Linked DNA regions of Homo sapiens: region 2 is linked to region 1. The links come from fine-mapping of genetic effects on gene expression. A gene starts in region 1. The other region holds a variant in brackets. All regions are shown on one strand. Distances are between the middles of the regions.

Region 1 (5,000 bases):
TGGATTATATGTTATGCATATGCTCAACTTCAGTAAATACTGCTAGTTTTCCAACATGATTTTTACAGTTCACACTCCCACCAGCAGTGCATAAGAAGTGCATTTGTTCCTGCTCATCATCACTGGCCATCAGAGAAATGCAAATCAAAACCACAATGAGATACCATCTCACACCAGTTAGAATGGCAATCATTAAAAAGTCAGGAAAAAACAGGTGCTGGAGAGGATGTGGAGAAATAGGAACACTTTTACACTGTTGGTAGGACTGTAAACTAGTTCAACCATTGTGGAAGACAGTGTGGCAATTCCTCAAGGATCTAGAACTAAAAATACCATTTGACCCAGCCATCCCATCACTGGGTATATACCCAAAGGATTATAAATCATGCTGCTATAAAGACACATGCACACTTATGTTTATTGCCGCACTATTCACAATAGCAAAGACTTGGAACCAACCCAAATGTCCATCAATGATAGACTGGATTAAGAAAATGTGACACATATACACCATGTGCAGCCATAAAAAAGGATAAGTTCATGTCCTATGTAGGGACATGGATGAATCTGGAAACCATCATTCTCAGCAAACTATTGCAAGGACAAAAAACCAAACACCGCATGTTCTCACTCATAGGTGGGAATTGAACAATGAGAACACTTGGACACAGGAAGGGGAACATCACACACTTGGGCCTGTCATGGGGTGAGGGAAGGGGGGAGGGATAGCATTAGGAGATATACCTAATGTAAATGACGAGATAATGGGTACAGCACACCAACATGGTGCATGTATACATATGTAAGAAACCTGCACGTTGTGCACATGTACCCTAGAACTTAAAAGTATAATAATTTTAAAAAAAGAAAAAAAAAGTGCGTACTGCTCCAACAACAACAACAACAACAACAAAAAGCGCATTTGTTCCACATCTTTCCAAACACTTGGTAATTTTCTCTTTTTCGTTTTAGCTATCCTGCTGGGTATGCAACTGTACTACATTGAGATTTAATTTGCATTTCCTTGATGACTAATGAAATTTGCATTTCCTTGATGACTAATGAAATTGATGTCTTTTCACATTCCTGATGACCATCTGAAGATAGTTTTTTCTTTCTTAGATGGAGTCTAAGATCGCTCAGGCTGGAGTGCAGTGGCGCGATCTCGGGTCACTGCAACCTCCGCTTCCAGGGTTCAAGCGATTCTCCCACCTCAGCCTCCGAGTAGCTGGGATTACAGGCGCCCACTACTATGCCCAGCTAATTGTTTTGTATTTTTAGTAGAGACGAGGTTTCACCACGTTGGCCAGGCTGGTCTTGAACTCCTGACCTCGGGCGATCCACCCACCTCGGCCTCCCAAAATGCTGGGATTACAGGCGTGTGCCACCGTGCACGGCCAAATCTTTTTTTCTTTTTGAGACGGACTCTTGCTCTGTCGCCGAGGCTGGAGTGCAGTGGCGGATCTCGGCTCACTGCAAGTTCCGCCTCCCGGGTTCACGCCATTCTCCTACCTCAGCCTCCCGAGTAGCTGGGACTACCGGCGCCCGCCACCACGCCCGGCTAATTTTTTGTATTTTTAGTAGAGACGGGGTTTCACCGTGTTAGCCAGAATGGTCTCGATCTCCTGACCTTGTGATCCGCCCGCCTCAGCCTCCCAAAGTGCTAGGATTACAGGCGTGAGCCACCGCGCCGGGCAGAAATAGACATTTTCAAGTGACTGGAGATCATTCATTATATAATTAAAGTAAAAGTAGTCTGCAGGGTGTAATATTTTAAAGCACATTACAATTATGACATTTATGAAATAATTCCAAAATCTGAACTACTTTTTCAACAATTTAAAAAATCTCTAATAAAAAGGGGAATGGTGAATTTTGCTTTATTTATATACACATATTTTTTTAAACCCCAGCACTGTTGAGTACTAGTGTTTGTGTTGGCAACATGGTTTAGCGGGAAAAACACAGAGGTTTACTGCAACTGTGGACCACGTGAGTGAGAAAAAAGTCACTATATGTGTAAAGTATTGTGTAAAGAACGTTAAATAGCTTGATTCTAAGAGAAACTGTTTAGGTTTACATGGTATTTTACTGACAAGCACACATATTGTATGTGACGAAAGCATATCACGTATAAATTAGTATATGTATTATGAGCTCAATCTGTTAATTTAGGTTCTTATTCTTAAGTGCTGCTGTCTCTGTTTATAACGTAATAGTGCTACTTTCATTATCTCAAGAGAGCCGTGGGGTTGTACATGGGTCTAAAACGGACACGCGACAAGGGTTCCTAGGAATAAACCATAAACAGGCCCGGGAGCTACGCTAACGCCAAACGCCGAGCAGTGAGACGCGCAGCACCCGCCCTGCGCCTCGGTGGCAGCCGTCCACGCCGTCAGTGCCTGGCGGTTCCCGTGGGACATACCGTCCACTCGCCACGCCCCTCCGCCCGCGGCGCACCCCACGCACCGTGCCCTGGCCGCCCGCCTCACGCACCGCTTTCCTCTCCGTCCAGCGCTCGCTGCAGCCGGGCCGTCTCGCAGTCCAGCGTGCTGGCCAGAGACCGCAGCTTCCCGCAGAAGCTCCGGATAGGGTCCATGCTGAGCACAGCGGGGAAGGACTCCAGGCGTACGCAGACCCCACCGCTCAGCTCACAGCCTCCCGCCACTAGTTTGAATCTCGGCGCCGGACGCGTCCTCGGCTCTGCGCAGGCGCAGTCCTCTCTCGCGAGAGCCGAAGTCTCTCGCCGAGGCCCCAGGAGACCCCGCGAGACGGGTGCGCTTACGCCACGGCGTCTGCTGGCGGCCGCGGAGACGCAGAGTCTTGAGCAGCGCGGCAGGTGAGTAGCTGTGCGAATTCGGTTCTCTAGGGAGCTCCTTCTTCGCCTGCTGGCCTTACCTGGGCTCCCCGCTTCTCTGGAGGGGAGGCGGTGCGGGAACTCCCGTAGGCGTGAGCTGGAGCGCGCGCCCGCTGCTCTCTCCAGGTCCGGCCGCGCCAGTTCGCCTCCGCAAAGCCCGTCCCTCTCTTCCGCAGGCACCATGTTCCTGACTGCGCTCCTCTGGCGCGGCCGCATTCCCGGCCGTCAGTGGATCGGGAAGCACCGGCGGCCGCGGTTCGTGTCGTTGCGCGCCAAGCAGAACATGATCCGCCGCCTGGAGATCGAGGCGGAGAACCATTACTGGCTGAGCATGCCCTACATGACCCGGGAGCAGGAGCGCGGCCACGCCGCGGTGCGCAGGAGGGAGGCCTTCGAGGCCATAAAGGCGGCCGCCACTTCCAAGTTCCCCCCGCATAGATTCATTGCGGACCAGCTCGACCATCTCAATGTCACCAAGAAATGGTCCTAATCCTGAGTCGTCACCCTTGGATTTTATGGATCACGGAGCTGACCATCTTTACCTGGTCCTGGAACTGAAAAACTGTAGCTTGTGTGAAAATGAGCCTTTGGACCAGTCTTTATTAAAACAAACAAACATGAGTAGTCTGCATATCGAATATCTAGAGCTCTAAACCCCCAATACTTAAAAGTCTAATTGCTGTCCTGTGGTTTCATTAGTCTGATAGGAAGATAGGGATTTCCTCAGTCACAGATGATATTTTGAAGGAAAGCTGCAATAAAGCCACAATGATTTGAGGTCTTTGCTTAAGTATGAGATACTTGATGGGGGCTTTATCATGCAACATTAGTTTGCTTACCTTAAGAATTGCCCAAAAATGAAAGAAAATATGAGCTTTTCAGTTAAACATACTCCTAAAAACATTTTCCGGGATTTTACTACTAAAATTGGACATTTAAGCGAAGTAAAAGAGGCCGGGTGCGGTGGCTCACGCCTGTAATCCCAACACTTTAGGAGTCCAAGGCGGGCGGATCACTTGAGGTCAGGAGTTCAAGACCAGCTTGGCCAAGGTGATAAAACCCGTCTCTACTAATACAAAAAAAATTAGCTGGGTATGTTGGTGCAGGCTTGCAATCCCAGCTACTTGGGACGCTGAGGTGGGAGGATCGCCTGAACCTCAGAGGCAGAGGTTGCAATGAAGCGGAGGTTGCAGTGAGCCGAGAGCATGCCGCTGCACTCCAGCCTGGGAGACTGCATCTCAAAAAAGAAAAATAAACGAAGTAAAAGATATTTATCAGAGCTGTTACAGGAAGGTGTATTTTTTAGCTATTTTGGCAGGGTGCTGTGGTGCTTGCATGTAGTCCCAGCTATTCAGGAATATTGCTTGAGTCCAGCTTGGGCAACATAGCGAGACCCTATCTAAAATAACAATAATATATGGCCAGGCGGGATGGCTCACGCCTGTAATCCCAGCACTTTGGGAGGCTGAGGCGGGCAGATCACTTGAGGCCAGGAGTTCAAGACCAGCCCAACCAACATGGTGAAACCCTGTCTCCACTGAAAATACATAAAATTAGCCGGGTGCAGTGGTGAGGCCTGTAATCCCAGCTACTCAGGAGGCTGAGGCAGGAGAATCGCTTGCACCCAGGAGGTGGAGGCTGCAGTAAGTCGAGATTGTGTCACTGCACTCTAGCCTGGGCGACAGAAAAAGAAAATTTAGGTGGGGAAAAAAATCAGAATTGCGTCTGTGGGAACAGGAATAAAGGAGAAACCACTATTGACTGGGAAGACACACAAAGAACTTTGTCAAAGTTGTATGGCTGAGGCCCACACGGTGGCTCACTTCTGTAATCCCATCACTTTGGGAGGCTTAGGCAGAAGGATCACCTGAGATCAGGAGTTCCAGACCAGCCTGGCCAACATGGCGAAACCCCATCTCTACTAAAAATACAAAAATTAGCCGGGCGTGGTGGCTTACGCCTGTAATCCCAGCACTTTGGGAGGCCAAGGTGGGCGGATCACAAGGTCAGGAGTTCGAGACCAGCCTGGCCAATATGGTGAAACCCCATCTCTACTAAAAATATAAAAATCAGCAAAAAAAATTTAGCCAGGCTTGGTCATGCATGCCTGTAATCCTAGCTACTGGGAAGGCTGAGGAAGGAG
Region 2 (5,531 bases), 25 kb before region 1:
CTGATGATTCTGTGGAATTGGTGTCCCTGTTAGCAATGGCAGAGACCAGCCTGGAGCCTAGATCTGGTGCTTCTTCTGTGCTGTGGTTTACCCCAAACCTTTAGGTTGTTTATTCATTCAGATTAGATAGACTGGAGCCATAAAGTTAATTTGCACCTAGCTTTTTGGAGAATAGCCATGATTAACTGCTATTCGTGGTGGGGGTGGGGGGGAACCCTATGATTTACTATGCAGATGAAGAGGGTAGGAACTAAATAAAGGACTTTGTAAGCCAAAGTGGTTGGGCTGCTTTGTCAAATTCCACCCTTTGCTTGGTTCCAACATGGAATTTCTCCTTTAAAGATTTCAATATCCCATCAAAAGTACAGTTAGAGAATACCTAGTGAATTTATTGAATATAATGCTAAGAATCAAAAGACTTGTACTAGTTTACCTCTGGCTTTGGTAAGTGTGGCTTTGAGTAATAACTGAGCTGTTTCCCCGCATATAAAATAGAAATAAATAAGTAGTCATCATGACAGCATCTTGCTCAGTGCTTTAGTGTCTGCCCTGGTTGCCTCATTTGCTCCTAGGTATTTTGGAATTGACGTTTTCCCTTTGGAATATGTGTTACAGTACATGATATTGCCTATAATGTCTTTTTAGTTTTTCACGGTGTACAAAAACTGGGACGGTTATGCCCAGCTGATCATTGACTCAGGTAATGTTTTAGGTATCGGTTGTATGCATGTGAGGGGCAGGTGTGAATGTAGAAAGAAACATTATTAGGCTAGGTTTAAAATTCTCTAAAGTTGAACATAATAAGGAGCTGAACTTGATGCACCTCTTTCTTGTTCAATTAAACACATTTCAGACTTGTTTTTGTGAAATAGAAGGCAACACTCTAAATCAAGTTTGTAACTATGATTTAAGTGTTTACTTGTGCCAAACACAGATGGTTCCCAAGTTATGATAGTTCAACTTTAGATTTTTCAGCTTTGCAGTGGCGCATAAGCGATAAGCCATTCACTACGGTCCTCAGCTTATTATGGGGCTACATCCCAATAAACCAGCTGCCAACTGAACATCTTATAAGTAGAAAGGGCACTTCTGACTTAGGATATTTTCAACTCATGATGAGTTTATCCAGACATGACCCCCTAAGTAAGGAACATTGATACTGTGCTGAGGAACAACTTTACCAGCATTACCTCATGTAACCACAACTGAGATACAGTGACTATAGTTGCTATTTATAGGTGACAATGAGGCCCAGATTGAGGGGCTACTTTAACAGCTCAAAAATGGGGCATTGGACCTAGGTAGCCAAAAATAGAGGATTAGTTGAAACATTTCCAGAAATAATGTTCTTTCATACTCAGTTTCTTATAGTCTGGCATCCACCCACACTACACTGACACACTATTCTTGTAGTGATGTTATTCCCTACAAGTAGCAATTTTTGCCTGGTTATCTAAAGTAGACCTCTTCAGTTTTTAAACTCAAAATGCCTCTCAAAAAAAAAATATGACATGGTCATAGTTTCCACTTTGAATGTGTTAAGAGCAGCCAGATGTCTGCCTGTTCTGGTTTGTCTTCTATTACTTAAATATAGGTTGCTTTTGCAAATAACTAATTTCCTGGAGTCTGCAATGGCACAAGCTTGAAGGAAGTTATGTTTATTCTGTTAGAAAGGATTAATCATGACTAGGCAACTATTCTGTGAAGACAAAATCACGGATTCTCCCCCTTAAGAAATCCTTAGGGGAAATAAGCTAAACATAAAAGTAATTTTAATACTAAAGAGTAGTTGCAATAAGCAAAAAAGTCCTTAGCCTGGGAATGTTAATGCAGACTATTATAGGAAGGTGTAATGATATCCCTACCTCATAAAACTTGGGGAGGAGTCAGTGAAATTAGGGGAGAGCCTGGTGGGCAGTGAATATTCTGTAAAGGTAAGCTATTTTAAAGAGAAAGAAGGTATTTCTAGCCTCTTCAATTTGTGCCTTCAGCTGTTTAGAATTTCCTGCTCTACCCATGGTACCATGTCAACCCAGTTACAACTAACTCATGAGAAAATTTAACCAGGATTTGGCCGGGTGCAGTGGCTCACACATGTAATCTCAGCACTTTGGGAGGCTGAGGTTGGCAGCTGACCTGAGGAGTTCAAAACCAGCCTGGGCAACACGGTGAAACCCCATCTCTACTAAAAATACAAAAATTAGCCAGGCATGGTGGCACATGCCTGTAATCCCAGCTACTCGGGAGGCTGAGGTGGAAGAATTGCTTGAACCTGGGAGGCAGAAGTTGCAGTGAGCAGAGATTGCACCACTGCACTCTAGCCTGGGCGACAGCGAGACACTGTCTCAAAAAAAAAAAAAAAAAAAAAAAAGGAAACGGAATTTGATGAAGTTAGAGCAATTTAAGAATGAAGTGGGCTGGGCGCGGTGGCTCACACCTGTAATCCCAGCACTTGAGGAGGCCAAGGTGGGCAGATCACAAGGTCAGGAGTTCGAGACCAGCCTGACCAACATGGTGAAACCCCATCTCTACTAAAAATACAAAAACTAGCCAGATGTGGTGGCACGCACCTGTAATCCCAGCTACTCAGGAGGCTGAGGCAGGAGAATCGCTTGAACCTGGGAGGCAGAGGTTGCAGTGAGCCAAGATCTCACTATTGCACTCCAGCCTGGGCAACACAGGGAGGCTCAAAAAACAAAACAAAACAGAACAAAACAAAGAATGAAGTGAACCTTCTGAGGGATATTCAAAAATCCTTGAAAATTTTAGATGAGTGCCTATTTTATGTACCAGATGCT[A/G]TGAACCTGGCAATACAAAGATTTGACACAGATGCAGATCCTTCCTCAAAATCTTACAGTCTAGTAAGGAGGAAAAGGTGCAAATATTGATAAAAGGTGGACAGAAAAATGTCACAAGAAAGAAGTGCTACTGAAACTGTGGTAGGATAATGAAAGGTTTTCTACAGATGGCATTTAAGCCTGTTCAACTCCTAAAAGTGGAGTAGGATCTACACTCCAATAAAGTGCACAGCATGAACAAAAGAGGAAACGATGAGCTCACAATCAGTAAAGCACTCACCTACTGACCTTTGGCAGGAGTTCCAGATAAAGAGGAGTATCAGATAATTCTAAAGAATTGTAATAATCTAGGTGAGAATCTGGGTAGTGGTAGAAAGATGTTAAAAGACGGAGCCTCCGTAGGGCTTGGCAACAAACAAGACTTGGGATGGGAAATCGGACATGGAAAGTTAATCATTAAAGCCTCAATTTCCCCATTTGAAAAATTAGGTACCTACCTCAAAGAGTTAATTACACATGTTAATAAATGTATAGCATTTAGAACCATCCCTGGCATCGTAAGATCTCAACTCTTCGATGTAATCACTAATTCACACAATAAACCTTTTAAACTGCTAGGTGCTTGGGTAATGGACAAAGTAAGCAAACAAGGTCCTTGCCCTCACTGAACTTTTGTGGTCCAGTGGGGGAGACAAATATTAAATAAATGTATAACCAAATATTTTATTAAATAGAATTAAATTCTACCAAATACTATGAAGGACGAGAATAAGGTGCTGAGAAAGAACTAAGGGGGAAAGATCTCTTTTAAACCAGGAAAATAGGTAAAGTCTTTGATAAAATGATATTTAATCTGAGACATATTAGCCAGGGCTCAAAGTCTGAAGTAACAGAAAACTCCAGCTGGCTCAAGAGCAAGGAGTTTATGCATCATTTAACAGAAAAGTCCATGGTAGAGCTGGCTGACTTCAGGCCCAGCTGATCCTTGAGCTCCAACACCACCTCAACTCTGTTGCGAGGGCTCCTCCACAGGCCATCCCTCCCTTCACGGCTCCAGCTGTACCTCTATCTCCAGAAGCGTGCTGCTCTTTCCCAGTACTTCCCCAGTCCCGGAATGGGCTTTCATTGACCTGACTTGACCAGTGTGGTCAGAAGTTGTGATGTTGCTTGGTTGAGCCTGGAGCTGGCCTGTAAGTTCTTAAGGGCAGTAGTTAGGGGGCAGACAAAAACATCAAGTGTCCACCAATTAAGGATGAGGGAGTGTTAGCACAGTGGGTGGGAAAAAGTATTCCAGGATGAGAGCAGCCTGTGTGAGGCCCGGGGGCAGGAAGTACGGAGGAGTGGAAGAGGGTGGTGTGGCTGGAGCACAAGGGGCAGGACGGAGAAGCAAGCTGGGGTCAAATCATGTAGGGCCATGTAAGCCAAAATAAGGATCTTGGATTTCATTTTAAGAGGCGTGGGAAGACACACTTGAAAGATCCCAATATTTGAAGCTTGACAAGCTGGAAGCATCAGTTCTAAGAAACAGAAACTAGGATTACAGGAGGGAGGTGGTAAGGGTTAGGGAAATATGACTTGGACAAACTGAGGGGCCACCACTAAACAAATGGTGCTCCCTTGCAGATAATCAGAAATGCTTAACAGTCTTTATTGCCCATCGATGTGGTTTGGCTGTGTCCTCACCCAAATGTCACCTGAATTGTAGCCCCTGTAATTCCCACGTCGTGGGAGGGATGCAGTGGGAGGTAACCGAATCACGGGGGCGGGTCTTTCCTATGCTGTTCTCATAATAGTGAATAAGTCTCACGAGATCTGATGGTTTTATAAAGGGGAGTTTCCCTGCACATACCCTCTTGCCTGCCACCATGTAAGACGTGTCTTTCTTCCCCCTCTGCCTTCTGCCATGATTGTGAGGCCTCCCCAGCCATGTGGAACTGTGAGTCCATTAAACCTCTTTCCTTTATAAATTACCCAGTCTTGGGTATGTCTTTATTAGCAGCGTGAGAACAGACTAATACACTCATCTTTAAAAAACCTCTTCACTACATAACCTCTTCTAGCTACTACACCTTCTCTCGCCTCCCTTCTTTAGCAAAACTCCTCAAGAGCTGTCTAAAGCCACTGTTTTACCTCCTCAGCTGTTTTCTCTTCCATCCACTACAGACTTCTAGTACCAGCACTCCATCAAAATTAATCAATGTTGTCAATAACATCGACTTTGCCAAACCCAACAGTCAGTTCTCAGTCCTCTTTTTATTTGAATTCTCAGCAATATTCACAGAATCATCACTCTCCTTGAAATACTTTCTTCCTACTTCACTGGCCTCAGTCTCCTTTGCTAGATTACTCTGCCCCTTTCCATCCTCTAAAGTTGGGAGAACTCCAGGATTTGGTCCTTGGTACACTTTGAATATATTCCCTCCCTAAGCAGCTCATCCGGTTCTGTGGATTTATATACACACGGTACACAGTGAAAGGCTGGTATACATTTCAGAGTCAATGGCATACATAAGGCTGACTACAGCTTTACTTTGAAAAACAAAACTAAGTATCTTAACATTTTATTTTACATTATATTTAATAAAAATAATACTTACAACTACCCAGTAACTCCTAGAACAAGGACAAACTCAAGTTTTGTTTTGGTGACAGTTTTCTGACAAGATTAATAGAGCACAATGGACAGGTCCCCCATTTGACTTTCAAGGAACAATCATAAAACAGGGTAATCTT

Alleles and levels. Positions count from the first base shown, and alleles are read on the strand shown. Sizes are in standard deviations (SD) of each study's normalised expression.
In carriers of allele G in region 2, the expression in fibroblasts of the gene that starts at base 2,674 in region 1 tends to be lower than with A alone (small effect, 0.17 SD a copy in GTEx).

The links. PIP is the estimated chance that this variant, and not a neighbour inherited with it, causes the effect.
Region 2: its variant is the best candidate, but not a certain one, in a credible set for the expression of SKA3 in fibroblasts (GTEx, PIP 0.70).

The regions. Positions count from the first base shown.
Region 1 is chr13:21,173,879-21,178,878 of GRCh38, forward strand. SKA3 (spindle and kinetochore associated complex subunit 3) reads right to left here and starts at 2,674. Exons shown (of 9, transcript NM_145061.6): 1 at 2,497-2,674. The coding sequence starts at 2,599. MRPL57 (mitochondrial ribosomal protein L57) reads left to right here and starts at 2,780. Exons shown (of 2, transcript NM_024026.5): 1 at 2,780-2,839; 2 at 3,034-5,000. The coding sequence starts at 3,039. The coding sequence ends at 3,347. RefSeq lists enhancers at 747-1,469, 2,192-2,914, 2,930-3,249.
Region 2 is chr13:21,148,563-21,154,093 of GRCh38, forward strand. It overlaps SAP18 (Sin3A associated protein 18), which reads left to right. Exons shown (of 4, transcript NM_005870.5): 4 at 1-535. It overlaps SKA3 (spindle and kinetochore associated complex subunit 3), which reads right to left. Exons shown (of 9, transcript NM_145061.6): 9 at 5,033-5,531. Among named protein-coding and RNA genes, the nearest start is that of SAP18, 11 kb to the left of the region's middle. The variant A/G (reference allele first, on the strand shown) is at 2,799.